7 separate regions of the Homo sapiens genome follow, and all the other regions are linked to region 5. Evidence: fine-mapped expression QTL. A gene starts in region 5. Each other region holds a variant in brackets. All regions are shown on one strand. Distances are between the middles of the regions. Region 1 has its middle 22 kb from the start of FAAH. Region 2 has its middle 9.7 kb from the start of LINC01398. Region 3 has its middle 15 kb from the start of NSUN4. Region 4 overlaps LOC105378693 (a long non-coding RNA gene). Region 5 holds the start of FAAH (fatty acid amide hydrolase). Region 6 has its middle 27 kb from the start of LINC01398. Region 7 has its middle 8.4 kb from the start of NSUN4.

The links. PIP is the estimated chance that this variant, and not a neighbour inherited with it, causes the effect. A credible set is the group of variants that fine-mapping cannot tell apart.
Region 1: its variant is the best candidate, but not a certain one, in a credible set for the expression of FAAH in unexposed skin (GTEx, PIP 0.84).
Region 2: its variant is the best candidate, but not a certain one, in a credible set for the expression of FAAH in lymphoblastoid cells (TwinsUK, PIP 0.55).
Region 3: its variant is the best candidate, but not a certain one, in a credible set for the expression of FAAH in skin (TwinsUK, PIP 0.66).
Region 4: its variant is the best candidate, but not a certain one, in a credible set for the expression of FAAH in skin (TwinsUK, PIP 0.57).
Region 6: its variant is the best candidate, but not a certain one, in a credible set for the expression of FAAH in sun-exposed skin (GTEx, PIP 0.72).
Region 7: its variant is the best candidate, but not a certain one, in a credible set for the expression of FAAH in adrenal gland (GTEx, PIP 0.61).

Annotation. Positions count from the first base shown.
Region 1 is chr1:46,414,649-46,418,703 of GRCh38, reverse strand. No RefSeq gene overlaps it. Among named protein-coding and RNA genes, the nearest start is that of FAAH, 22 kb to the right of the region's middle. The variant T/C (reference allele first, on the strand shown) is at 2,258.
Region 2 is chr1:46,457,326-46,461,390 of GRCh38, reverse strand. No RefSeq gene overlaps it. Among named protein-coding and RNA genes, the nearest start is that of LINC01398, 9.7 kb to the right of the region's middle. RefSeq lists an enhancer at 2,559-3,426. The variant C/G (reference allele first, on the strand shown) is at 2,170.
Region 3 is chr1:46,324,227-46,328,291 of GRCh38, reverse strand. No RefSeq gene overlaps it. Among named protein-coding and RNA genes, the nearest start is that of NSUN4, 15 kb to the left of the region's middle. The variant T/C (reference allele first, on the strand shown) is at 1,904.
Region 4 is chr1:45,759,063-45,763,127 of GRCh38, reverse strand. LOC105378693 (a long non-coding RNA gene) reads right to left here. Exons shown (of 3, transcript XR_947290.2): 3 at 2,291-2,481. Among named protein-coding and RNA genes, the nearest start is that of IPP, 10 kb to the right of the region's middle. The variant T/AT (reference allele first, on the strand shown) is at 1,863.
Region 5 is chr1:46,392,406-46,396,470 of GRCh38, reverse strand. FAAH (fatty acid amide hydrolase) reads right to left here and starts at 2,154. Exons shown (of 15, transcript NM_001441.3): 1 at 1,928-2,154. The coding sequence starts at 2,122. RefSeq lists an enhancer at 1,753-2,266.
Region 6 is chr1:46,420,278-46,424,342 of GRCh38, reverse strand. No RefSeq gene overlaps it. Among named protein-coding and RNA genes, the nearest start is that of LINC01398, 27 kb to the left of the region's middle. The variant A/G (reference allele first, on the strand shown) is at 2,495.
Region 7 is chr1:46,330,367-46,334,431 of GRCh38, reverse strand. No RefSeq gene overlaps it. Among named protein-coding and RNA genes, the nearest start is that of NSUN4, 8.4 kb to the left of the region's middle. RefSeq lists a silencer at 443-492 and enhancers at 2,028-2,757, 3,488-4,065. The variant A/G (reference allele first, on the strand shown) is at 2,412.

The DNA of each region.
Region 1 (4,055 bases), 22 kb before region 5:
CCGGTGAGAAGGGGAAAGGCCATGAAAACAGGCAGTAGCCACCAGCACACTGGTGGTCAGAGAGGTATGAGGAGGAGGCTGATTTGTGCTCTCACTCTTCTGGCCATCGTACTCACTGGGGCTTGGCATCAACAGAAAGACCTCATGCAGTTGCTGACAGACTGGCCTAGCTTTCGGTTCCAAGCCCCCAACTTCTAGCTGTGGGACCCTGGGCAAGATACGTAAACTTTCTGTAAAAGGGGGGCAAAAATGCCCATCATAGGGTTCACAGAGGATTAAATGGCATGACTGTGAAGTGCCCAGAAAGTAGATGGCTCATAGTAGGTACTCAGTAAATGTGGTCTAGAATTCCCTTTCCCCTTTTTTCCGGATCAAAAGTCATGTTATCACTCCAGACATTAAATATTTAGAGGTCTTCATTAGCACAACTCTCTGTCCCCCTTCTGTTCATTCAACAAATCCCTCCAGAATGTGAGCTCCACGAGGACAGGGGCCAGGGCTGCCTCATTTGTCACTGCCAGCACCCAGCACAGTGCCTTGGCCCCTCACACAGCCACACTTTATCATCCCAGAATTTGTGGAGCACCATCCTCTAAGCCAAGAACAAGTGATGAACAAGACAAAGCACAGCTCTCAGGAAGCTTATGGTTTAGTGGAGGAGACAAAAAAACATCAAAGAGCTCAGAGAGTGATAATGCTACAAAGAACAAAGGGTGGCCAGGCGAGGTGGCTCACACCTGTAATCCCAGCACTTTGGGAGGCCCAGGAGGGTGGATCACCTGAGGTCGGGAGTTCAAGACCAGCCTGACCAACATGGAGAAACCCTGTCTCTACTAAAAATACAAAATTAGCTGGGCATGGTGGCGCATGCCTGTAATCCCAGCTACTTGGGAGGCTGAGGCAGGAGAATTGCTTGAACCCAGGAGGCAGAGTTTGCAGTGAGCCAAGATCCTGCCATTACACTCCAACCTGGGCAACAAGAGCAAAACTCCGTCTTAATAAAAAAAAAAAAAAAAAAAAGAACAAAGGGTAACCTATTAGAAAGTAACAAGGGGCAGGGCGTGGTGGCTCATGCCTGTAAGGCCCAGGCAGGCAGATCATGAGGTCAGGAGTTCGAGGCCAGCCTGACCAACATGGTGAAACCCCATCTCTACTAAAATACAAAAATTAGCTGGGCGTGGTGGCGCACGCCTGTAATACCAGCTACTCAGGAGGCTGAGGCAGGAGAACCGCTTGAACCCAGGAGGCGGAGGTTGCAGTGAGCTGAAATTGTGCCACTGCACTCCAGCGTGGGCGACAGAGTGAGACTCTGTCAAAAAAAAACAAAAAAAAAAAAAAGAAAGAAAGAAACAAGGGCTCGGGTGCAGTGGCTTACCCCTGTAATCCCAGCACTTTGGGAGGCCCAGGCAGGCAGATCACAAGCTCAAGACCAGCCAGACCAACATGTTGAAACCCCGTCCCAACTAAAAATACAAAAATTCGCTGAGTATGGTGGCAGACACCTGTAATCCCAGCTACTTGGGAGGCTGGGGCAGGAGAATTGGTTGAATCCGGGAGGCAGAGGTTGCAGTAAGCCAAAATCATGCCACTGCACTCCAGCCTGGGTAACAGAGCAAGACTCCGTCTCAGAAAAAAAGAAAAAAAGAAAAAAGAAAAGAGAGTAACAAGGGAGGCCATTTTATAAATGGGTGAGCAGGGAAGGTGACATTGGAGCTGCGTGTTCCAAGCAGAGAGAAGAGCTAACATGAAAGCTCTGAAGCAGGGCCCAGCTTGAGATAATCAAGAAACCAAGGCCGGGCGTGGTGGCTCATACCTGTAATCCCAGCACTTTGAGAGGCCGAGGCGGGCAGATCACGAGGTAAGGAGATCAAGACCATCCTGGTTGACATGGTGAAACCCTGTCTCTACTAAAAATACAAAAATTAGCTTGGGCATGGTGGCGCGTGCCTGTAATTCAATCTACTCAGGAGGCTGAGGCAATAGAATCGCTTGAACCCGGGAGGCAGAGGGAGGTTGCAGCGAGCCAAGATCGCGCCACTGCACTCCAGCCTGGGCAACAGAGCAAGACTCTATCTCAAAAAAAAAAAAAAAACTACCTGGGCGTGGTGTCGCTTGCCTATAATCCCAGCTATTCAGGAGGCTGAGGCAAGAGAATTGCTTGAACCCAGGAGGTGGAGGTTGCAGTGAGCTGAGATCGCGCCACTGCACTCCAGCCTGGCAACAGAACTAGACTCCGTCTCAAAAAAAGAAAAAGAAA[T/C]AAAGGAGGCCGTTTTATAAATGGGTGAGCAGGGAAGGTGACATTGGAGCCACGTTCCAAGCCTCCTCAGTAGCTGGGACTACAGATGCACGCCACCATGCCTGTCAAGACTTTTTGTACTTTTAGTAGAGACAGGGTTTCGCCATGTTGGCCAGGCTAGTCTGGAGCTCCTGACCTCGGTGATCCACCCGCCTCAGCCTCCCAAAGTGCGAGGATTACAGGCATGAGCCACTGCGCCTAGCCTGATTTATACTTTTAAAAGATCATTCCAGCTCTGTGTGGAGAATGGATTAGAGGGCAGCCAGGGTTGAAAGCAGGGAGCCCAGAAGGGAAGTCACTGCAGCGTCCAGATGAGGGAGGTGGCTTGGACTAGAGCATGGTGGTGGAGATGAAACACAGTGGCCATGTACTAGCCTCAGTGACCACTTCCCCCTCCCCTTGGCAGCATTTGACCCCTTGTCTATCCTGTCCCCCAGCCCTAATCACAGGAGGAACAGATGTGTTTGTGTCAATGTCCACGTCCCCAGAAGCCCAGGCTTGACTCAGGTCAGCTGAGGTCTGGACATGGCCATGCTGAGGCTCCAAGGGCTGAATCAATGAACGAGTGAAGGCACCTCCACTCTGCAGCCTCGTGTCTGAAGGCACAAAGATATCGGTAACTGAAAGAGAGAAATGGGGCAGGAGGAGGAAGCTGGGGCAGATGGTAGTGGTTTTATGAAAAAGGCAAAATTACAGCAGTGGTTACAAGAAATCAGGGCAAAGTGCAGCATCTACCTAGATGTCCCAATCTGGGTGTCCCCATGTAGGTTGGGACCTCACCTCTGCCCTGAAAATGGCCCCACAGAGGCAGGGATGGCACTGGGAGATGGTGCAGGCGCCAATGGGTGTGGCAACCTGGAGGGCAAAGCACTTCTGGAGGAGTATGAAAACCAGGGTGGAGAAGGAAGTCTTGGGAAGGCAACTCTTCTAGAAAGAATCTGAGACAGACAGGTAGGAGCCGTGGACCTGCCCTACCTAGAGGGCTCAGGCTCTGAAACATCTCCAGCCAGCAGGAGAATTAGGGCTGGGGCCAGGGAAGAGCAAAGCAACTGGGCTAATGGGGTTAAGAAACTCCTAGGGTCAGCCGGGCATGGTGGCTTTCACCTGTAATCCCAGCACTTTGGGAGGCCGAGGTGGGCGGATCACCTGAGGTCGGGAGTTCAAGACCAGTCTGACCAACATGGAGAAACCCCGTCTCTACTAAAAATACAAAATTAGCCGGGCATGGTGGCGCATGCCTGTAATCCCAGCTGCTCAGGAGGCTGAGGCAGGAGAATCACTTGAACCCAAGAGGTGGAAAATTGCTTGAACCCAGGAGGCGGAGTTGCAGTGAGCCGAGATCACACCATTGCACACCAGCCTGAGCAACAAGAGCGAAACTCTGCTAAAAAAAAAAAAAAAAGAAGGAAACTCCTAGGGTCGGCTACAGATGCCACCTTTCTACCAGCCAGGTGACATAGTCCAGTAAGAGGTGGATAGCAGACGAGCTGAGACAGCTCACCTCCATCCTGTCAATTCCCAAAGGGCCCCTCTTTACCCCTGGGCCAAGGTTCAGGCTTTAGGCCCCTCTCCCCAAATTAGGGATCATGGAGCAGCTTCTTTACCCTTCTACAGGTTTTGCCCCACGAGTCTAGTCCTCAGGCCGAGCTATGATCTTTCCAGAGTCCCACTGTCCTTGAGACAGAACTCAAGTTCCTGACCTGGCTGCCCAAGTCCACCTTGATCTGTCCTCACCTATATCTCTGCTTCCCCTGTGCCC
Region 2 (4,065 bases), 65 kb before region 5:
TCTCTTCTCCAGGGTCAGAAATACAGGATGTGCTTTGAAAGGATCAGCTGCACATTTGTTTCCTCCTCCTCCTCCTCCTTCTCCTCAGGCTTGACTCGGGGACTAGGGCCCCTGGGACAAGGCAGGGAAACGTTTAATGAGTTTGTATTCCCAGAGAGCACAGTGACTGACAGCCGCCCTGGGGGTCACTGTTCTTCTTGTGTCCTGGAAGAGGATGCCGCAGCTGTGGGGCGGGCTCTGTGTGTCCCTGTGAGTGCCCGCCTGTACCCCTGTGCATGTACACCTGGAGCGGGGCTACAGAGGGACTTCCCAGGACCGCCCTGCCTGTGAAGAGACGCTGCTGCCAGTATCTGGGAAAAGGGGAAGAACTTGGGGGACTGCTGTCCTTTGGGCAGTGGGGTCCCTGTGGTCTGAGCCACAAGCCTCAGCCCTCCACCTGGTCTCCTCAGGTAACCCTCCGCACACGCTACTTGGGGCAGGTTGGTGGGAGGGAAGCCTGAGGCTGCCCACAGTGGGGTTTGGAGGAATCGGGGGACATGGTCGATGTGGAGGCCTGAGTCTGCATGGGTAATGAGACCAGGGACTGGCTTGTCAATAGCATTTAAGTACTTTTCTCCCATTTTCAGGCCAGACTGAATTATTTATTCGTTTCTAGTCAATCGCTGGTAATGTCATTAGCATTTGTCCATCAAAGGTAGGGAACAGAGTGGGAGTGGTCCCCCTCCACTGACCCCACATCCCAAACTGACTCTCAAAGGTCAATCCATCCCCTTCCCTGCCCCTGCTCTCAAGTTACCCTGGGACCAGCATTTTTCAGAGGCCCTGCATGCAGGAAGGTCTCCATCCCCACAGAGCTTCAACCCTGATGGCACCAAGGAGCCAGCTATTCTCCAACACCCTCTCTAGTTATTCTCCAATGCCCTCCCATTATTAACACATAGACCCATTCCCCCAGTGCAGGCATCACACTGGCTGCCTGCTTGAAGAGCCAGCCAAGGCTGGCAAGCGAAGACCCAGCTGATGGTGGGGCCAGGGACCCAGTAGAGCAGGCAGTTTGGGTTGGCACCGGCCTCTTCTCTTGGTCTAGAGGCCAGCCTGCACCCTCAGACTCAGCTCTCATTATAGAGTCCTTCCTCCCTGCTCAGAGCAGGGTCCCAAGTCAGACTTCTGCCTCTCCTCTCAAGCCAGACTCATGGGGAGTTGAAGGGAGGCACGATTTGTTTCCACTCTCAGATGAAGCTCCCATTCCTTAATCAGCTCCCCAGACAGAATCTGCCTCCCCCTTGAGGCCAGGATCCCAGACTGGCTTTCCAAGGCAGCACCTCTCTCCCTTCTCAGCCCATGGGGCTGCTACCTACACCACTAAAACTAAAGGAGCCCTGAGGAGGATTAATCCCCAGGGAAGGGACTGCTGGTCCTCACTCAATATCCAGGTCAGAAGTTCCTAATCCAGACCCTTCCCTGATCAATCTAATCTTCCATCCTCGAACCTGGGACTTAAGAAAGTGAAAGGTGAGATTTCTTGCAGAGATCAGGAAGGGAGTGTGCAGTGGGGTCTTTGGAATGCTCTGGGGAACAATGGCCTGGTGAGGCAGTAGGGACACCGCAACAGCCAGAGGGAGAGGTTGAACTGGGCTGCCCTTGCAACAGTGGCCTTGGCCAGTCTCACATCCCATTCTGCTGCTGGGATGGCCTTTCAGAGATGTCCCAGATTGAAGTGGGGAGGCCAGACTCCCGCATTGACCAGTCGCCTGTGGACTGCCCCCAACAAGGGGACATAACCTTGGGAGAGGCAGCTGAGGACACTTCCCCGGGAAGGAACTCAACCGTGAGGCCACAGCGGCCAACACTCCCAGCACTGCAGGAATGTCTCGGCCCTCAAGGGCAATCTGGGCAGCACCACAGCATCCACTGCAGACTTTCTGGGCAGAGGGATGAATGGGCCCTAGCGATGGCTCGGTTCATGGAGATGTAGGTGGTAATGAATGTTGGTGGACATGGCTAGATGGGGCAGTTTTGGTGGGCACAGCAGCATGAGAAGTTTTGAGGTTATGTGGAGGGCTGGGGCTCTGTGGAGGACAAGGCAGAGCAGGATGGCTTGGAGGGACACGAGACAAAAAGTTTGGAGGACAGAGGGAGTGGATGGGTGTTCATGCTGCTCCTGTTGGG[C/G]CTGGGCAGCCCAAGTGGATGGGAAGAAGCCCCCGTCAGCATGACAGCTCCTCAGTCGCTAAGCAGGATTAGCCTCCTCTTCCTCAGAGGGAGGGGCTCCGCTCCTGCATCAGCCACCAGCTCTGGCCCTAATCCCCCTCGATTTCTAATCCACCCACGACTTTCTTAGGCATTAGCGCTGGGCTCTCAGCTCCCTAAGCCCCACCCTGAAGATGGGAGCCGGGCTCTGAAGGGAATTAGGCCAGCTTCAGAGGATGGCTTGCCAGACAACTGGAGGAAGGCTGAGAGCACCACCCACCCTTCAGCCTTTCCTCCTCTGTGGCTCACCCCCACCCCCAGCCAGGGACCAGGGTCCCAGAAGGATCCCTACCAGCTCCCTGCTAGGACCAGGTGAGGACGGGGCAGAGGGGGCTGAAGAGGAAGAGGCTCCCCACCTCTCAGGCCGATGCTGAATCTAGAGGGGGTGCTAGGCAAGGATACAAGGGTAACCCACAGCTTGGCAAAGGCAGACAGAGTGGAGCTCAGGAGAGTGTGCCAGGAGAGAAACCAGAAGGCAAACTGAGGCCAGATTGTGTAGGGCCTTGAATGCCAGCTGAGGGATTTGGCTCTCCCCTGGGGATGCTGAGGAGTCATGGTGGGATTCAGAGCAGTTGGTCTGGTGCCTGTGAAGCCTGGCTGGGGTGGGCTGCAAAGGAGGAAGGGCAAAGGAGTGGGTGGCACTCTCCAGCTCCCTCTGGTTGTCTGGCAAGCCGTCCTCTGAGGCAGGCAGAGGCTGGGGTGAGGCTCTTGCTGTGATGTCAGCAACGGCAATGGGACCCCGAGAGAACACCCAGCACCAGCTCCCAGGCAGCCAAGCAGCACAACACCCTGTGTGGCAGCAGGGACAGGTGCAGCCTGAGCCTGGGGGATGGGGGCATCAACGTGCACCTGTGAGGGAGCAGAGCTGGGGGCACCTAGGGAAAGGTAAGGTAGGGCAACAGCCCATTACCTCTCAGCAGCTGCCCTCCAGAGCCTCATAATCATCTATTATTCCAACTACTAAGAACAGGCAGCAAGAGCCTGGCTGCAGTACGGGATGGGAAGGAGTGGCCTGGGAGCGGGACCCTCACCTGCCCAAGACACCCCTTCCCAGAGTTGGGAGACCCATCAGCCCCACTCCAGGCCCTGAGAGTGGCCATGAGCTTCTTTCCTATTAGAGGTGTCCAGGCATGGAGCTGGGAAGGCAGGGGAAGGTGCCAGTCTAGAGGTGTCCAGGTCCCAAGCACCAGGAAGGGCCTGTGGTCTGTTCATGAGCTGCTTCCTGGGAAAATCTGGCATCTTTCTCTCCCCTTCAGCCCCATCCCTTCCTACCCCCACCCCCCAGGCTAAGTTGTCTGCAGATATTGCAGGGGTGGTTATGAGTATTCATTAAGCCAAATACTTACTAAAATTCTCCTTACCCTAACCCTTGCCCTGGGCAACTGTTGTTCACCCATTTTTTACAGATGAAATAAACAAAGTTCAAAGGGAAGTCACTTTTTCTAGACCCACACAGCTGGTGACAGCACTGAAACCAGGGAGGCAGAAAGGAAGACAATCATTTACAATCTAGGAAGGCAGAGTAGTACAGTGGTTACAAGTGTGACTGTTGGAGTCTGATGGATTGGGGTTCAATTCCGCACTCCACCTGCCTCTTTCTAGCCAGGCAACCTCCCTGAGCCCCAAGTTTCTCATTCGTGAGTTAATCATGCCAACTCACAGGACCCCTACAGCGTGGGCCTTGTAGGAGAATAGAAACACTGTGATCCAGTGAGATCTCTGGGGGAATGGTTGCTGTTGTCACTACCCAAGGCCACTGAGTGGACAGGCAGAGAAGCAGGGCCTGGTTCCCAGCTCTGTCTGCTTCCAAAGCCCTCA
Region 3 (4,065 bases), 68 kb after region 5:
GTTTATTCTAGTGGGCCCAAACTCCGAGACCATCCTTAAACAGCAGTAGACTGGGAGCTGTACGCGGATGGGAGCAGCTTCGCCAACCCCTGCAAAGTGACTCTGAAGAAGACGACAAGCCCTGCTCCAGTCATACCCGGAAGCTGACTGGTCCACACACAGCTGAAGCATGAGGAAACTCATAGCAGGGGACTCATTTTCCTTAAAATTTGGACTTGTATTGTAAGGACTTCAACTGACCTTCCTAAGACTGAGGGCTGTTCCCAGTATATACATCAAGTCACTGAGGGACAAAAGATTGCTAAAGTCTTATTATTTTATGGTTATTATAAGTGTACCAGGACTCTAAAAGTTGTTTGTATAATGCAATTCTATCCAAGGTATGTAGCCCAGGAAATAACCAACCTGATGCGTGTTATGACCCATTTTAAGCCTCCCATGATCAGTTTTTAAAATAAAATTAATGACTGGTCCTTTTCTAGGCGACACAAGTAAAGTAATAGCTAGGACAGAAGAAAGAGGGGTCTCCAAGCATATAACCCTAAAATTTAATGCTTGTGCCACTATCAATAGTAATTGGCATAAAATAAGATGCAGTTCTTTAAGTTGAAAAAAAAAAAGTTTACACGGCAGGAAATAAGTATATCTGCCATGAATTAAGCTCATGTGCAAATGTGTGTAATTACTGGTCTTGTGTCATCTAGACTACTTAGAAAAAGGATGAAAAAGATCCTGTTTAGCTCCAAAAAGGAGAATGCAGCCCCTCCTATACGAGTGGACATTGGAACCCCTTGAAATTAATAATTACAAATCCCTTAAACCCAAGGTAGAAAAAAGGAGAACACGTATCTCTGGGCATCAATAGGAAAAGACTAGGTCCTACAGCAAATATCTTAGTAAAAGAGGAGTTTTGTAAACTCTCTCTGGAACCAGTATTTCAGACTTTCTATGATGAACTAAATTTGCCAGTACCAAGAGACTCCAGGAAAAACCAGAAATTTGTTTTTGCAATTAGCCGAGCGTGTAGCCCAGTCTCTAAATGTCACTTCATGTTATGTTTGTGAAAAAACTGTAATAAGAGCTCAATGGCCATAAAAAGCCCAAGAATTAGTGCCTACAGACGCAGTTCCTGATGAATTCCTGGCCCACAAGAATCACCCTGATCATCTCTAGGTTCTAAAAGTCTCAATTATTGGACAATATTACATAGCTAGAAAAAAGAAAGAATTCACTCATTCTATAGGATGTCTTAGTTGTTTGGGCCAAGAACTGTATAATGGTACCGCAAAAAAACAGTTACATGGTGAAGTTCCAATTATATAGAAAGAGATCCATTCAGTAAATTTCCAAGGTTGCAGACTGTCTGGGCCCACCTGGAATTCCACCGGGACTGGACTGCCCCCACCAAGTTATACTGAATACGTAGACATAGAGCTTAAGCTAAGCTGCCTGACCAGTGGACAGGTAGTTGTGTTATTGGCACTATTAAACCATCTTTCTTTCTACTGACCATAAAAACAGGCAAACTCCTGGGCTTCCCTGTCTATGCTTCCCGCGGAAAATGAAGCATAGCCATAGGAAATTGGAAAGATGATAAATGACCTTCAAAAAAAAATTATATAATACTATAGGCCTGCCACTTAGACACAAGACGGCTCATGGGGATACTGGACCCCCACTTACATGCTCAACTGAATCATACAGCTGCAAGCTGTTTTAGAAATCATCACTAGTAAAACCAGTCAAGCCTTGACTATTCTGGCCCAGCAAGAAACTCAGATAAGAAATGCTATCTATCAAAATAGATTGGCTCTCAACTACTTGCTAGCAGCTGAAAGAGAGGTCTATAAGAAATTTAACCTTACTAATTACTGTCTACACATAGATAATCAAAGGCAAGTAG[T/C]TAAAGACATAGTTAAAAATATGACAAAACTGACACATGTGCCCATGCAAGTGTAGCATGAATTCGATCCTGAAGCCATGTTTAAAAATTAGTTCCCAGCACTAGAAGGATTTAAAACTCTTATAATAGAATTTATAATAGTAATAAGAACCTGTTTACTGCTTCCTTGTTTGCTACCTGTACTTCTTCAAATGATAAAAAGCTTCATCACTATCTTAGTTCACCAAAATGCTTTAGCACAAGTGTACTATATAAATCACTATCAATCTATTGCACAAAAAGACATAAGTAGCAAAAATAAAAGTCAGAACTCCCACTAATAGAAAGTGAGAGTCTCAAAGGGGGGAAATGAGGGGAGAGAGAGACCTTCTCATATTGTTTTATATTGTTTTATACTCAGTACCTATTTTAAGAAAAAAAAAAAAAAAAAACAAGGAAGTAAAACCAAAGACAGGCAGCCCAGCGCCAGGCCCGAAACCAAGCCTGGGCCTGCCTGGCCTAAACCCAGTAGTTAAAAATCAACTCATAACTTAAAAACCGATGTTATTCATAGATTCCAGACATTGTGCAGAAGAACATTGTGAAACTCCCTGCCCTGTTCTGTTTCTCTCTGACCACCGGTGCATGCAGCCCCTGTCACGTACCCCTTGCTTGCTCCAAATCAATCACGACCCTTTCATGTGAAATCCTTAGAGTTGTGAGCCCTTAAAAGGGACAGGAATTGCTCTCTTGGGGAGTTCGGATTTTAAGGCAGTAGCTTGCCGATGCTCCCAGCTGAATAAAGCCCTTCCTTCTACAACTCGGTGTCTGAGAGGTTTTGTCTGCGGCTCATCCTGCTACAAGTTCACAAGTGTAGGTCATGATGTCCTCCTTTTACTCCTACAGGGACTCATAAGAAACAGGTTTAATATTGGACAGGTGTACCCAGCTAGTGATTTCCTAAAGGTTAATAGTAGTTGGGGGTACTTAACAATACCTATTAAAGGCTCTTTTATTTTGGTTGTAATTGATTCTCGGGGTAGGGGGACAGAGTGAGACTCTGTCTCAAAAAAAAAAAATTACAAGAAATTTTGCTTTTCAATACTATAACCTGTTTCTTTTAAGAACTTATCACCCGGGCACGGTGGCTCACGCCTGTAATCCCAGCACTTTGGAAGACCAAGAAGGGCAGATCACGAGGTCAGGAGATCGAGACCATCCTGGCTAACACGGTGAAACCCTGTATCTACTAAAAAAATACAAAAAAATTAGTCAGCGTGGTGGTGGGCGCCTGTAGTCCCAACACTTTGGGATGCCAAGGCAGGTGAATCACCTGAGGTCGGGAGTTCAAGACCAGCCTGACCAACATGGAGAAACCCCGTCTTTACTAAAAAGTACAAAATCGGTCGGGTGTGGTGGCGCATGCCTGTAATCCCAGCTACTCGGGAGGCTGAGGCAGGAGAATCACTTGAACCCGGGAGGCGGAGGTTTTGGTGAGCCGAGATCGTGCCATTGCACTACAGCCTGGGCAACAAGAGGAAAACTCCATCTCAAAAATAAAATAAAATAGGCCAGGTGCGGTGGCTCACTCCTGTAATCTGAGCACTTTGGGAAGCTGAGGTGGGTGGATCACGAGGTCAAGAGATTGAGACCTCCCTGGCTAACATGGTGAAACCCCATCTCTACTAAAAATACAAAAAATTAGCCGGGCGCAGTGGCGGGCGCCTGTAGTCCCAGCTACTCGGGAGGCTGAGGAAGGAGAATGGCGTGAACCCAGGAGACGGAGCTTGCAGTGAGCCGAGGTCGTGCCACTGCACTCCAGCCTGGGTGACAGAGCGAGACTCCATCTCAAAAAATAAAACTAAATAAATAAATAAAATAAAATAAATAACCAGTCATTTCACTCTAGGACAAGAATTTACCACATAAGATTTTACCTCATGTAAAATTACTCGTGTGTGTGTGTGTGTGTGTGTGTGTGTGTGTGTGTGTGTATTTTTTATTTTTTATTTTTTTGAGTCAGAGTCTCGCTCTGTTGCCAGACTAGAGTGTAGTGGCACAGATCTCGGCTCACTGCAACCTCCACCTCCCGGGTTCAAGCGATTCTCCTGCCTCAGCCTCCGGAGTAGCCGGGACTACAGGCGCACACCACCACGCTCAGCTAATATGTTTGTGTTTTTAGT
Region 4 (4,065 bases), 630 kb after region 5:
TAAAATCTATGTGAAAGAACCAAGAGTACCAAGAATAGCTAAGACACCACTGAAGACGAAGAACAAGATAGGGAAACTTGTCCTACCAGATATCAAGACTTATCACAAAGCTACAGCAATTAAAACAGTAAGGCATGGGTGAATAGAGCAATAGAATTAAATAGAGAATTGATCCTAGCCCAAAGGAAAACATTACATGGGAGAGCTGATACTGCAGATCAGCTGGGAAATATGATCTATTGAATACATAGTGAGTGTTATGACAACAGATTATACATAAGGAAAAACAAAAAAAGAAATTGGATCCCTATCCCAATCTGTACACAAAAATTAATCCCTAGTGACTGAAAGAATTAAATGTGATGGAATATAATACTTTTAGAAGAAAATATAACATTTCTATGATATCGGGGAGGGAAGACATTCTTAAGCACACACCAAAAGTGCAAAACATAAATAGTCTGATAAATTGCTAAAATTATGAACTTTTGTTCAACAAGAGACAATAAATAAAAGGTATAGATAAACCACAAATTGGAAGAATATACTGGCAACGTTGGGACAACTAAGTTCTTCTTCAAAGACTCAACTTCCCGGTCACAAGTTACAGAAGTTGTAAATCAATCCTACCCCCCATTTCCTTCTTCTTTTCACAAATCATGCATTTATGCTATTTGGAAAAGTTTAAGTGTTAGCCAATTAGGATCAGCTTAGATTTTGTGGTCCAACCCCAGCCAATACGGGAAGGACACAGACACAGGGACTGCATTAGGATTAAAAACTCCTTCCCTCCTTTGTTTGGTGTGCTCTTGTGATTGTAACAGGTGCAAGCAGCACCCTTTTGCAGAAGTAAAGATGCCTTGCTGAGAAATTTTCTGTCTAAGTGCAGGTTTCTTTTGGCTATGCCAACCACTTGTTTCCAACAAATTTGGGGGCTCATCTGGGATCCCATTCTCCTTTGGGAGTGGCTAGCAATTATCTTTTATGGGGAGATGCATCCCACTGCCTCATTGTGGTGGCCCCAGGAGTGGAGGATTGATTCCCCCAGGAAGTGACAAATAAATACAGACTCTCAGCAACGTGGGCAGTAGGGAGGATCCTTAAGAACTCCATGGTGACCAGATAACTCTGTGCACAGACCAAGGTAAGAAATGTCCCTACTGGGGCAACAAAGTATTCCTTGGTAGTCAGGGTCTCTGGAGGTTGAAAGTGTGTAAGTGAGATGCGCCATTGCGGGTGATGCGAGTGCAGAGTCCAGACTTGGTTCCATGGTCACCTCATACGGCTTAGGGCCGTTTTCCAGTTGGGGGATTATACTGACCTGCCAATGCTAACAGGGGCCTAAAATTCTCACAAGGGAATTAGCCAATAAGGACGAAGTGAGTGCTCACGAGAGTGCAAGAAACCTCCAGTGGGGACCGGGCATGGTGGTTCACGTCTGTAATCCCAGCACTTTGGGAGGCCGAGGTGGGCAGATTTCCTGAGCTCAGGCAGTTGAAACCAGCCAGGGCAACACGGTGAAACCCCGTTTCTACTAAAAATACAAAAAAAGGCTGAGCACGGTGGCTCACGCCTGTAATCCCAGCACTTTGGGAGGCCGAGGCAGCACTTTGGATCACAAGGTCAGGAGATCGAGACCATCCTGCATAACATGGTGAAACCCCGTCTACTAAAAATACAAAAAAATAGCCAGGCATGGTGGCAGGTGCCTATAGTCCCAGCTACTCAGGAGGCTGAGGCAGAAGAATGGTGTGAACCCGGGAGGCGGAGTTTGCAGTGAGCCAAGATTGTGCCACTGCACTCCAGCCTGGGCGACAGAGCAAGACTCCATCTCAAAAAAAAAATAAATAAAATTTAAAAAA[T/AT]AAATAAAAATACAAAAAAATTAGCCGGGCATGTTGTCATGCATCTGTAGTCCCAGCTACTCGGGAGGCTGAGGGAGGAGAATGGCTTGAACCCGGGAGGCAGAGGTTGTAGTGAGTCGAGATCGCCGCTGCACTCCACACCCCAGCCTGGGTGACAGAGTGAGACTCCGTCTTCAAAAAAAAGAAAAAAAGAAAGAAACCTCCAGTGGGAAAAGGGGAGGTTGAACCTTTAGGATATGGGAGTGCAAGAAATCTCTAATACAAGAGATTGAGCCTCATCAGCCCCCAGGATGGGAAATACCCCAAGTAAGACAGGGACTATAAGAGGCCAAGCAGACAATAAAATTCCCCCGACAGGCCCCTAGGCCTTATGTTAAAATACTGCAAGGATAATGAAAGGACCAAACACAAGAAAAGACAACAAATGATAAAGTATTGCTGTTTTATTTGGACTAAGGAACCCATCCTCAGACCTTTGGTCTTTTGGCCAAAGTTTGGGTTGAACAAGGACTGGATATGCCAACTCCTGATCCAATATGTCAATGATAAAAGTCCAGTTTCTCAAGAGGAGATAGATTATGCTCTATGTTGGAGACAAGGACCTCTCCTTCTCTATCCCCTAAAGGACGAAAAAGCAAAGCCAAACTTAAAATCCCCCAAAGACGACCTAGCTAAGTCATATCCCCTATCTAAAGATGCATGGGATCCTCTAGACCACCTTCTCCCGCCTAACCCTCTGCCCCAAGCTGAACACTCAGTCCCTCCCCCATATAACCCTGCCCCATGGGCCTTGACACCCCACACCCCCATTGGACAGCCACCCGAACATGCCCCTTCCTCAGGAAAGTTCCAACGGGAAATAGAACAATGCCAAGGGATATTCAAAACTTTCGTTTCCCCTCTTCCTCAAAGAAGTGTGCCCCAACTCTTTTTCCCTTAAGGGAAATAACCACTAGGAGGAGGGGATATTGGCTTCATAAATGCCCCCTTAACCAGTTCAGAGGTTAGAAATCTAAAGAAAAGGAACTCAAACCAGTTAGATGACTCTTTTGGAGTCGCAGATCAAATTTACCAATTTCTGGGGCCACAACTGTACACTTGGGCTGAAGTAATGTCTATTCTAGGTATTCTTTTCTTAGGAAAGAACCATGATCCGCAGGGCCGCTGTGATAGTCTAGGAGCACAAGCACCCCTCTTGTCAAAATGTCCTTGCAGTGGAGCATAAATTCCCAGCCCAGGATCCTCAATGGAATAATAACAGTGCGGCCCACCAAGAAAACATGAGAGATCTCAGAGATATGATAATTAAAGGGATTTGGGAAGCCATTCCTCAAACCCAAGATATTTCCCGAGCATTTAATATACAACAAGGGAAAGATGAAGGACCCATGGAATTCTTGAACAGATTTAAGGAACAGATAAGGAAATATGCAAGTTTGGACATAGAGGATCCAATGGGACAAGGGATGTTAAAGCTCCACTTTGTCACCAATAGTTGGCCAGACATTACAAAGAAATTATAAAAGATAGAATATTGGAAAGACCGTCCCATAGAAGAACTTTTAAGAGAGGCCCAAGAGGTATATGTATGAAGGGATGAGGAAAGGCAGAAGCAAGATGCAAAAATTATGCTGTACACCCTACAACAGGGAACTCTTCAACAGGGAGCCCAGGGAACTAGAACTTGTAAACCTTCTAAGTACCCTGGCTGCCAGACCCTATACAGGAAGCAAAGGGATGAAAACCAAGAGTCAGGGAACAGGGAGGGGAAGAAGGGAAAACAGATGTTTCAGGTGTGGAAAGCCAGGACATTCTAAGAGGAAATGTCCCAAATGGGAGAGGGAAAAGAAAGTCCTTCCACTCATGACGTTTGAAGAATAGGGGGGTCAGGGGCTCTACATCTTCCATCTCGTGTCCCACCAAGAGCCCTTGATAAGTTTAACAGTGGGACCCAAATCGGAGACAGTCACTTTCTTAGTAGATTCGGGAGCGGCTTGCTTCCCGCTATGTTTTCTCCCATCAGGTTTAGCCTGGTCAGCAGAAGACCATACTGTCTCAGGAGTTAAAGGGGAGGGTTCAGGGCAAAAACTCTAGAGGAAACCGAAGTCAAATATAAGAATAAGTTGGTTACTACTAAGTTCTTGTTAATTCCTGAAGCAGGAACTAATTTATTAGGAAGGGACTTAATGTTAAGATTAGGCAT
Region 5 (4,065 bases):
TGGGAAGGGAAAGACCTGACCATACCTCAGCCCGATACCCGTAAAGGGTCTGTGCTGAGGAGGATCAGTGAAAGAGGAAGGCCTCTTTGCAGTTGAGATAAGAGGAAGGCATCTATCTCCTGCTCGTCCCTGGGAATGGAATGTGTCAGTGTAAAACCCGATCCTACGTTCTATTTACTGAGATAGGAGAAAACCACCTTATGGCTGGAGGTGAGACATGCTGGTGACAATACTGTTGTTTACTGCACTGAGATGCTTGTATAAAGTCAAACATAAATCTGGCCTACATACACATCAAGGCACAGCACCTTTCCTTAAACTTATGACACAGAGTCCTTTGCTCACATGTTTTCCTGTTGACCCTTTCCCCACCATTACCCTATAGTCCTGCCACATCCCCCTCACCGAGATGGTAGAGATAGTGATCAATAAATACTGACGGAACTCAGAGACCAGTGCTGGCGCGGGTCCTCCCTATACTGAGCGGTGGTCCCCTGGGCCCACTGTTCTTTCTCTATACTTTGTCTCTGTGTCTTATTTCTTTTCTCAGTCTCTTGTCCCACCTGAGGAGAAATACCCACAGGTGTGGAGGGGCTGGCCCCCTTCAACATGCAGGGCTACACCCTGGGCTGGCATGCAAGGTGCCTTCCTCATATCTCTCTCCTGTTCCTCTCCACGAAAGTGTGGCTGCAGAGTGCAGCGGGCACCTAGGTTCTAGTTCCAGCTCTGCCCCAACTCAAAAATCACTTGCGGAACATCTGCTGAACACAATTTTCTGTGACTCTTTCTGTCTCCCACCCAGGCACACCCTCCTGAGTCCTGCGGTTCCCAACCTGTAAAGCCTTCCCACCTGTCAGGTCCCACAGATACAGCAAGCCCTCCCTCTCTCAGCACATAAGAAGGCTTTAACTGGGGTCAGTGTTTCACACACCCAGAGGAAAAGCCCCTCTTCAAGCCACATCTTCCAAACCCTCAGCCAGGCCCTTCCACGCCTCCAAACCCACATACTGAGGTGATCCAAAGGCAGCGCAGGGAGAAAAGCTTGTTGACAGACCACCCACGGAGGGCTGGAACTAAACCTGCTCATGGAAAGGGCTTGCCAGGGGTTGGACACCACAGCAGGAGCCAGAGAGACTTCCCTTCTAGCCTGGCTTTGCCAAGATCTCCCTGTGCACTTGGCAGGTTTCTTTCTGGCTCCCTCTTAGGATCCAAATGCACAAATCAAGAAGCTTGAACTCAGCCAGGCGCGGTGGCTCACGCCCAGCACTTTGGGAGGCCGAGGCAGGTGTATCAACTGAGGTCAGGCGTTTGAGATCAGCCTGGCCAACATGGTGAAACCCAGTCTCTACTAAAAATGCAAAAATTAGCCAGGCGTAGTGGCGGGCCCCTGTAATCCCAGCTACTGGGGATGCTGAGGCAGCAAGAATCGCTTGCACCCGGGAGGCGGAGGTTGCAGTGAGCCGAGATCGCACCACTGCACTCTTGCCTGGGAGTCAGAGCGAGACTCCGTCTCAAAACAAAACAAAAAAAAACAAAAAACAAAACTCTAAGCTCTCCAGATCCCCTTGGCCATTACACTCTGCGATTCCAAAGTCCTCAACCCCTGGCATCCCACTGGTTGTCACGCTTGCGTTTTCGCATTCCAATAGGCAGCAATCGTGAGATTCTTTGGCACAAAGCAAAACTCCTCTTTGACCCAGTGAGGGAAAGGCCTTCCACCACCTGCCTTGACACTACCGTTTCCTTTCTTCCCCCGTGCTCTACCTGGCTCAGAAAGTGCGGAATATCTTAGGGCAAGGAGAGATTCTGGAGAGTTACACATCTGCTCTGCCCGCCCCATCCCCTGTCCCTCGGCGGGTCCGGCGGCTGAAAGTGCCGCTGCGAGTACCCTCAGGCCGCGCCCATCCCACTACGCTCCGGCAGTCACCTGGAGCCGGAAGCGCTGCGCCGCCCTGTCCATGTTCTCCAGGCCCGCTCGCTGCCTCTGTCGCGCCCGGACCACCGCGCCCCGCGCCGTCCGGCGCCCGGACCAGCGCAGGGCCACGGCCGCCGCCACGAAGCAGCAGGCCAGGGCGACCCCGGAGGCGCCAGGCAGCGCGGCCCACAGCTCGTACTGCACCATGATCCCTTCAGCCTGCTGCTGCCTACCGCGACAGTTGAAGCCGCCGCACGCGCAGCCCGCCCGCTCCGCCGCAAAACCCGGACTGGATCAGCCGGGATCCCACGCCCGCCTGCGCGGGAGGGGCGGGGAAGCGCGCCAGAGCCTAGAGGCTATCAGAGGCGGCCCGCCTGGCATCGCCCCCAGCGACATCCCGCTCCCCGCCAAGCCGAGCAGGCGGGTGGGGAAGGGCGACTGTTTCTCGTGGGCGACCTCCCAAGCTTGAGTTTAGCACCGGTTGGGCACCACAGCCCCGGCCGTCCTCTGCCCCCTGCACCCCAGAGCCCCAAATGCTGAAGACTGCGCCCCAGCCGGAGCCCCATGCCAGACATGCCAGCTGTTAGATATGAGTTCTAAATTTATCTTAAAAGAATCAATATGTCAGTATCTTCAATTCTTTGCCTTCTACTTTTAAACTTAACTTCCTCATAAAGCAACATTTTTCGATTACCTGCTCCTCCCTCACTCATTCTTCACCGTGGTTCATTCCGATTTCCTGCTCTGCGGTAACCATTTTTCCCGCCAAACCACTCACCCCCTCACTGTCTTTAAATTAGCCAATCGGAATTAGTTTAGCCTATAGGTCTAACCCTAGCCAACAGGGGAAGGACACAGCATCAGGAATCACGTGGGTCAGGCATAAGAACCACCTTCCCCTCCCTTGTCCAGGTGTGCGCTCACCTTTGCTCCGTCTGTGAGGGCGCACCCTTCTATAGAAGTAAATTGCCTTGCTGAGAAGAAAAAAAAGAAAATTTTATATTCGAGTGCTATTTCTTTTGCGGCACTGGGGGGAAACTTTATTTATAACAATTTGGGGGCTTGCTCGTGATTACATTCCCCTTCAGGGGCAGTCTCTGGTTCTCTCTCCTGAGGAGGTATGCCCCACCCTCTTGTGATGGCCTCAGGGGTGAGAAATCAGGACTCACCCAGTGCAAGAAATAACCTGAGCTCTCAGCAATGTGAAAAGAAACCAGCAGGCAACCTAGGGTAAAGCATCCTCACACACTGCAGAGACAACTCTGTGCACAGACAAAGGAAGAAGCCGAGGGAGCCGGTAAGGTACTTCCTTGGTGGTCAAATTCTGGAGGGCTAAATGTGTGTGTGCGTGAATGATCACAAACAACCCTACCTGTGGTGTTGTTCGTGTGGATGATGACAAGTCCTACTGCTGGACGGAGTGAGTGGGTCCTCTCCACGTTTCCGTAGCTACCTCATATGGCTTAGGGAGGATCCTGCGGTGGGATTTCTACTGGAATGCCAATGCTGAGGGGGGCCTAATTCTCCCTTGGGGGAGCAGCCAGAGAGGACAACACGAGTGGGAAGTGTGCAAAGGACCTTCAGAGGGGGAAAGGGAGGAAACAGGTCAACCTTCCAGGGAAGCAAGGCAAGACACCTCCTAGTTTGAGGGATTGAGCCTTCCAGGGCAGCAAGGCAAAACACCCCCTGGTTTGAGGGGTTGAGCCTTCCAGGTCAGGCAAGGCAAGATACCCCCTGGTTTGAGGTGTTGAGCCTTCCACAAATTTCAGGGGATCAAAAACCTCACACAAACCTCCGGTAGTAAGAAAAATATTCAGAATTCCCCTTTCCTTTCTTCTCGGGGAAGAAAAAGTAGCTGCACTCCTGACGGTCCCTTCCCTAGGGGAAGGGGAAGGAGAGGGGAGAACAGCAGCATAAGCAGCTGGCAGAGGCAGGGAAAGACCAGCAGAGAGGAAAGAGAAACTGGGAGAGGAAGTTGGAGAGAAAGAGAGAGGCAAAGAGAGAGAAAGAGAGGCAGAGAGAGAAAGAGACAGAAAGACAGAAGCCAGGCGTGGTGGCTCATGCCTGTAATCCCAGCACTTTGGGAGGCCAAGGCCGGTGGATCACGAGGTCAGGAGATCAAGACCATCCTGGCTAACACCGTGAAACCC
Region 6 (4,065 bases), 28 kb before region 5:
CAGTTTATCTTATTTCCGCAAATACCCTAAGTGGGCACCTCCCATGTTACTGAGCCACGTGCCAAGTGCTGGGAGAACAGAGAAAGAATACACTGCCCCCAATCTCCAGGGTCTCAAAGGCCGGGGATGGAGGAGAACTGACAACCACACACAGAGCTGGCATGGGGGGAGAACTGGGGGTGGGGAAGTGCCCACCTGCTCCCTGTGTCTGCGGGGGCTGGGGTCATGGACGGGAGGGGCATCCTGAGGTGTAGTCCTCCTGTTGGGATTGAGGGCCAAGGCCCCCTGTGGCTGGGGGCCTCCGGGACCCGTGTCGACTCACCTGCTGCCGGAGTCACTGGGCCAGGTCCTCCATCTTCTGCAGTGCTACCTCCCTCCACTTCTGGGCCCTGGGGATCTTGTTCCGGGCTGGAGCATGCCACGAGGTGAGCAGGGAAGCCCCCAGTAGGCCAGCCCCCAGCAGGGCCAGCAGAAGTAGCATCATCAGGGAGTCAAACAGCCAAGCCACCTTAGGTATTGCACGACCTGTGTGAATCCAGCTGCTGTTTCCTCAGGAGTATTTGTCAGCGATGCTGCCAGGGCACCCACGCACATCTCGGGCCCTGGGTGTGGCAGTGATCAACCTCCTCCTAGTTCTTACCCCATCTGGACTTCCTGGCGACAAAACCCCTATCTCCCGGGCCATGCAGAGGAAGAGGCTTTAGCAGGCGAGCCTGAAGAAGGGCCCAAGCCTGCAGCTGGGCAGCTGACCTCACCTCTGTCACATCCTACTCCCACCCATCCTACCTCTCAGATCCCACCCCTCAGATTCCCTACTCCAACCCTCAGGAGTTATGGATGGGGTTGCTCCTGGGGTTCCCATTGCCTTCAGGATTCTCCCAAAGCTCCTTTGTTCCGCATAAGCAGACGCATGGAGGTGGAACTGAACAGGCCATGTTTGCCTAGAGTGGAGGTTCTGGGGGACAGGAAGAGAGGAAAGGAAAGAACACCTGGAGGAGCGGGCAGGGCTCATCAGGCATCCACCCCAGGGGAGATGATGCCAGGACATGAGACCAGCCCGCCCAGCTGGGCTTCCCCCTTGACTCCAAAGCAAGGCCATGACTCTGATCCGGGGTTCCAGCCTCCCCAGTCTATTGACTCTCCCTGCTGGTGGAGGGGAGTTGTGGGGGTAAGGGAGATGACTTCCCAGACGAGGAACAGAGAAGACATGAGGAGACTGGAAAAGTGGTGCAGAGGGGCCCTGATGTGGGAACCATTCTGCTCTCCTCAGGGGCCTCCATCCAGTCTCCATCTCAATGGTCATCACTGAGACTGCAAGTCACTGTACCCAGGAGAATGGCGCCTTTGCCCTCCAGACCAGGAAGCCAGGGCAGCAGCAGGTTAGGGTGGGAAGGAACTGAATTCATGGTTGGTAATGTTGAGTCTGAGTACCCGAGGGTCTAAAGGAACAGATGCGAGGTCAGCAGTTGACTAAGGGTGACCCTGAAGTTGCCCACTCTGTAACACTCTGTCATCTCCCTGGGGCCTCCAGACCAGCCCTCCTCTGTCCTTCTGCCTCTTTTCTGACCATTTTCTTCCATAGCCCCCACTCCACCTTCATGAACTCCAGCTCTCCCCCATATCTTCAGCTCCCCCAGGCCACTTGTCACCCGCACCACATCCCACGGCACAGCACTCTAGGCCTCGTGACCTCACCTTTTCCTGGGTTACACCCTTCCGTTACCACATACCTCATTTTATCTCATCATTACACTTATCATTAGCTGAAGTTTTCTTGTTGATCTGTAACTCACCTCCTGCCTCCCTCCCTAGAAAATAAGCTCCGTAAAAGCACAGACGAGGCCAGGCACAGTGGCTCACGCCTGTAATCCCAGCACTTTGGGCGGATCAATTGAGCTCAGGAGTTTGAGCTCAACCTGGACAACACGGCAAGACCCCATCTCTACAGAAAATGCAAAAAAATTAGCTGGGGGGTTGGGGGAGCATAGACCTTGTCAGCCTTTTTCAAAACACCTGGCACATGGTATGTGTTCAATGGTATCTCTTCAGTGAAGAAATGATGGCAGGTTGAGCCCTCCATTCCTACCTTGACTTCCCCCCTCTGTGCGTTGCTGCTAGCTCTTTCCTAGCAGCATTTAACATGCTAAGTCTCTCCTATCTTGGGGGATGAGGGATGATTCCCTCAGATTTACACCCTCCCTAACTACTACCACGTCTTTTGTCCGCTTCCTGAACTTTTCCAGTTTTCTACACGGGCTGCCTTTACTTCTTCACCTTTCACTCACTCCCCCACCCAACAAAGTCTGGCTTGTGCCTATATCATCCCAGTGATCTCCTCAAGAGTAAATCAGCAGCATTTAGAGTTGTCAGCTTCACCCTCCTTGAAACACACTCATTCCTTGGCTCAGGTGACAATGCAGTTTTCAGCTTCAATGTTACTTCCTCCAGGAAGCATTCCCTGACACACACATACACACATCTCAGGCTGGATCAG[A/G]TCCCACGTGGTTTATTCTCATAATACCCAGGGCTTCTGCTTGATTGCACTTCTAACGAGTGTTTCTGTGTAATTCTACATTTGATGTCTGTTTCCTGGTAGAATGGAAGCTCCATTCAGGCAGGGACTATTTCTGATTGGTTACCCTGAACATACTGTGGGAAGAATTCAATATTTTTATTGCATGGATGGGAGGATGAATGGAGGGAGCAACCCTCCATTGTTGTTCAGAGAGCAACCCTCTCTGAATTTCAGTTTCCTTATATATGAAATGGAAATAATAAGCCCATTTTACAAAGGAGATAATGGGTTCAACTCCACAGCCTAACGGATGTTGGATTCTATTAAGACACAGTCCCTGCTTTCTACCAAGTGCAGAAGCACAAAGAAGCTCTTTCAACAGCCTGAGAGAGATGAAGGAGTTAAGAGGATGAGAGAAGTGGATAGATGAGGATCTACAGACCAGGAGAAAGCTATAGGTTGAATGTAGACTGGGAATTATTTGTCCTCATGGGCACTAATCAAGATCATGGCTCCTAGCATTTTGGGAGGCTGAGGCAGGTGGATTGCCTGAGGTCAAGAGTTCGAGACCAGCCTAGCCAACATAGTGAAACCCCATCTCTACTATAAATACAAAAAATTAGCTGGGCGTGGTGGCAGGCGCCTATAATCCCAGCTACTCCGGAGGCTGAGGCAGGAAAATCGCTTGAACCCAGGAGGCAGAGGTTGCAGTAAGCCGAGATCCTGCCATTGCACTCCAGCCTGGGCAACAGTGCAAGACTCCATCTCAAAAAAAAAAAAAAAAAAGATCATGGAGGTAGATACAATAAATGTGAAAGGAGCAAAGGGTCAGGGACTGATTGGAAAATTCCCTATTGGAGGTGAGAAGAGGAAGTAATCAGAATGGACCAAAATGGGTTCCCTAATAACAAGTCACCCATTGCTCCATTCAACAAGCCTTCTCTGGGTACCCACTGAGTACCAGGCACCATGCTGGGTGCTGAGCATACACAGCCCGATCCCAAGTGGCTTCACCTTCCTGAGGTGCCCAGGGCCGCCACCCCAAATCTATGTGTAGGAAACTTGGGAGGGCCCAGCTAAGCCCAGCCAGAGAAATGTGAACTAAAGATACATCTGGCTGGGAAGCTCAAAACTCGGTTATGTGTCTGTCTGTTAAGGGTGTAGGTCACGCCCTTTCCTTGGTCTGCTGTGATCCATAGGTTTATGGGTGACTTGGATGAAGTTGCAGAGGTCCAGTGCTCAGATTTGTGGATAAGCACATGTTGGGAGGAAGAGCAGAAACAGCCAGAGCTCTTGGGATAATCCTAAAAATGGTGTCCAACAGGAACAAATGACAAGTGCTCTGGCTGTGTCCTAAAACTCCAATATCGCAATCGCCAGGAGAGAAAAGGGAGGGTGGACAGGGACATGGCAGCTATCTCCTGTAAACAGATATTGGCAGAGGTGCACAGTACACAGGACTGCTTCTGTCTTCAAAGTGTTGTGGTCGCCTAGCACAGAGGCTGGTGTCCGAAGAATGTTGAATGCATGTTCTTGTGATGATTGTACAA
Region 7 (4,065 bases), 62 kb after region 5:
CAGTAGTATTTTGTGTAAGGTTGTGATGGTTTTTGTGCAGGGCTGTGGTTTAGATGCAGACAGGCAGGCGAGCCCCAAAACTGGGGCTTAGTCTGGGAAGGATCTTGGCTTTGCCCAGGAAAGAATTTAAGGGTGAGCCGGTGGTGTTAAACAGCAATTTTTTTTTGAGTCAGGGTCTCACTCTGCCACCCAGGCTAGAGTGCAGTGGTGCAATCCCAATTCACTGCAGTCTCAACCTACTGGGCTCAAACAAGCTTCCCACCTCAGCTACCCAAGTAGCTGGGACCACAGGTGCCCACCACCATGACCAGCTAATTTTTGTATTTTTTGTAGAGACAAGATCTCATTATGTTGCCCAGGCTGGTCTCAAGCTCCTGAGCTCAAGCAATCTTCCTGCCTCAGCCTCCCCAAGTGCTGTTATTGGAGGCATCAGCCACCATGAGTGGTCAAACAGCAATTTTTATTGAACTGGAGCTACTCCTTGTAGAGTAGAGACAACTCATAGGCAGTGTGCCCAGAGCCGCTCTTGTCCTGTTAGCAACTGTATTTATAGCCACTTACACCCACTTTTAATTAGATGCAAATTAAGAAGCAGGCTAATGCAAATTGAGGGGCAGGTTATTCCTAACTTTCTAGGAAAGGGGCAGTAACTTCCTGGTCATTGCCATAGCATCTGTAAATATGCCCCAGAGGAAGTATCTTATGCTAATGACCAGTGAGGGTAGCTAGGGATGGTTTTTGTTGCCATCTGCTGGTTCCTGCCGGTTTCTTCATTTTATCTAAGCGGCACCTTGGGAGCTGGAAATAATTCCTGCCAGTCCCCTACTTCATTCCCCCTCAGAGATTAGATACTCCTCCTTAATCTTAAAGGGGCGGCCAGGTGTGGTGGCTTAGGCCTGTAATCCCAGCACTTTGGGAGGCCAAAGCAGGTAGATCACTTGAGGCCGGGGGTTCGAGACCAGCCTGGCCATCATAATGAAACCCCATCTGTATTAAAAATACAAAAATTAGCTGGGCGTGGGGCACAGGCCTGTGGTCCAGGCTACTCAGGAGGCTGAGGCAGGAGAATCATTTGAACTCGGGAGGAGGTTGCAGTGGGCCAAGATAGCACCACTGCGCTCCAGCCTGGGGGACAGAGTGAGACTCTCTCTTTAAAAAGACCTTAAATGGGCTGCAGAAGGGAAGAGGGCCATCTTCTGTAGCTGTTTTCTGCTAATTTTATGGTCATAGGCCCTGCCTAGCATTGGAGGAGTGACAATCTCTGGATACCTAATCTGATGGGTCTAATAGCTGCTTGTTTTTATTTTCTAAGTCAGAAGATGGGATGGGTTAGAAGTCTTGTGCCAGCATTGTTTTCATGTGGAATTATTGTAGTCTAGAAGACACAAATGTTACTAGGAGGTTAAACAAGCAAGGGCCAAAAATTAGTAATAATAGAATCGCTATTTAAAAGTCTTAGGAAAGGTAAAAACCAGGTGAGAATAACAAATATAGTTTAATACTGCACATACTCAGCCTTGTAATATTATTTAGTTTTGTGTTTGTGAAATAACAACTTTTTTTTTTTTTGAGACGGAGTCTCGCTCTGTCCCCCAGGCTGGAGTGCAGTGGCGCGATCTCAGCTCACTGCAAGCTCCGCCTCCCGGGTTCACGCCATTCTCCTGCCTCAGCCTCCCGAGTAGCTGGGACTACAGGCGCCCGCCAACACGCCCAGCTAATTTTTTGTATTTTTAGTAGAGACGGGGTTTCACTGTGTTAGCCGGGATAGTCTCAATCTCCTGACCTCGTGATCCGCCCGTCTCGGCCTCCCAAAGTGCTGGGATTACAGGCATGAGCCACCGTGCCCGGCCACAACTTTAAGTCTTATAAGAGTTTGAGGGAAGAGAGAGAACTTCTCATATGGTTTTATATTGTTTTATACTCAGTACCTGTTTTAAGAAAAAAAAAAAAAAACAAGGAAGTAAAACCAAAGACAGGCAGCCCGGCGCCAGGCCCGAAACCAGGCCCTGGCCTGCCTGACCTAAACCCAGTAGTTAAAAATCAACTCATAACTTAAAAACCGATGTTATTCATAGATTCCAGACATTGTATAGAAGAACACTGTGAAACTCCCTGCCCTGTTCTGTTTCTCTCTGAGCACCGGTGCATGCAGCCCCTGTCACGTACTCCTTGCTTGCTCAAATCAATCACGACCCTTTCATGTGAAATCCTTAGAGTTGTGAGCCCTTAAAAGGGACAGGAATTGCTCACTCGGGGAGTTCGGATTTTAAGGCAGTAGCTTGCCGATGCTCCCAGATGAATAAAGCCCTTCCTTCTACAACTCGGTGTCTGAGAGGTTTTTGTCTGCGGCTTGTCCTGCTACATTTCTTGGTTCCCTGACCGGGAAGCGAGGTGACTGACGGCCGGCTTAA[A/G]CCTGCCCTGTGGAGCGTCCCTGTGGGGGACTCCAGACAGCTTGAGTGACGCGATCCAAAGAGTGCTCCCGGGTAGGCAATTGCCCCAGTGGAACGCGTCGCCAGAGCAGCATGTAGCAGGCCCCCACAGAGGATTAACACAGTGGCTGAACACCAGGAAGGAACTGGCACTTGGAGTCCGGACATCTGAAACTTGGTAAGACTAGTCTTTGGAACTTGCCCCACTCCATCTGAGTGGAAGCATGGCCTGATCACCCATGGCGGGTCTGCATTGGCACTTTTGTTCTGGTTTTAACTTGACTTGAATTGCTGGATACTTTGGTTTTGGTTTTGACTTGTCTTGGATTTTTTGGTACTCGGATTTTGAATTTCGTGATTTTGGTTTGGTATAAACGGTAAAAGTGTATGTGTGCCCTTTTTACCTGTTCTTTGTCTTGTGGTGAGTGTGTGTGATGTGAGCATGGTATTTTGTATCAAAAAAAAAAAGCAGCATGGGTCAGGCAAATAAGCCCACCCCACTAGGAACTATGTTAAAAAGAGAATTTCAAGAGAGAATTTAAGGGAGATTACGGTGTTACTGTGGCACCAGGAAAACTTAAAACTTTGTGTGAAATAGACTGGACAGCATTAGAGGTGGGTTGGCCTGGACAGGTCCGTTGTTTCAAAGGTATGACAGAAGGCCACCTGTAAGCCAAGGCACCCAGACCAGTTTCTGTACATAGACAGTTACAGCTGGTTTTAGACCCCCTTCCCCCCCACAGCAGTCAAGAGAATAGCAGCATAATGGCCGGGCACGGTGGCTCAAACCTGTAATCCCAGCACTTTGGGAGGCCGAGGCGGGCGGATCACAAGGTCAGGAGATCGAGACCATCCTGGCTAACACGGTGAAACCCCGTCTCTACTAAAAATACAAAAAAAAAAAATTAGCTGGGCGTGGTGGCAGGCACCTGTAGTCCCAGCTGCTGGGGAGGCTGAGGCAGGAGAATGGCATGAACCTAGGAGGCGGAGCTTGCAGTGAGCTGAGATCGCACCACTGCACTCTAGCCCGGGCGACAGAGCAAGACTCCATCTCAAAAAAAAGAATAGCGGCATAAATGGCTGGCAGAGGCAAGGAAAGACCAGCAGAGAGAAAAAGAGGCCATCTATACCAATTCTAAGTTAATTTAGACTAAACAAGGTCTTATTAATAGCAAAGGATAATTGAAATCCCAAACTTACAAGGTTTTCAACAAAAGTGACGTTTGCTAAAAGTTAACAGTGTAACATGTATTATGGTAACTTCTAATCTTGTGGCCTTGGACAGTCTAGTCCAAAGACATAAGGAATGGTTATCTTCAAAAAAAGAAAAAAAAAGGGGGGCAGGCAAAATTTATGTAAAAAGAGTGTTATATGGTAAATTCTTGTCCTGAAATAAATTAACTGTTTGTTTAAAGAAAAAAAGTTTGTAATAAGTCAGAAAGTTGAGACATGTTGAAAAATTGTCTCCAAAAGTTGTAAACAAAAAATGAAGGGGTGGGTTGCCCCTCCACACCTTTGGGTGTTTCTTGTTAGGTGGAACGAGAGACTTGGAAAAGAAAAAGACATGGAGACAAAGTATAGAGAAAGAAATAAGGGGGCCCAGGGGACCAGCGTTCAGCATACGGAGGATCCCGCC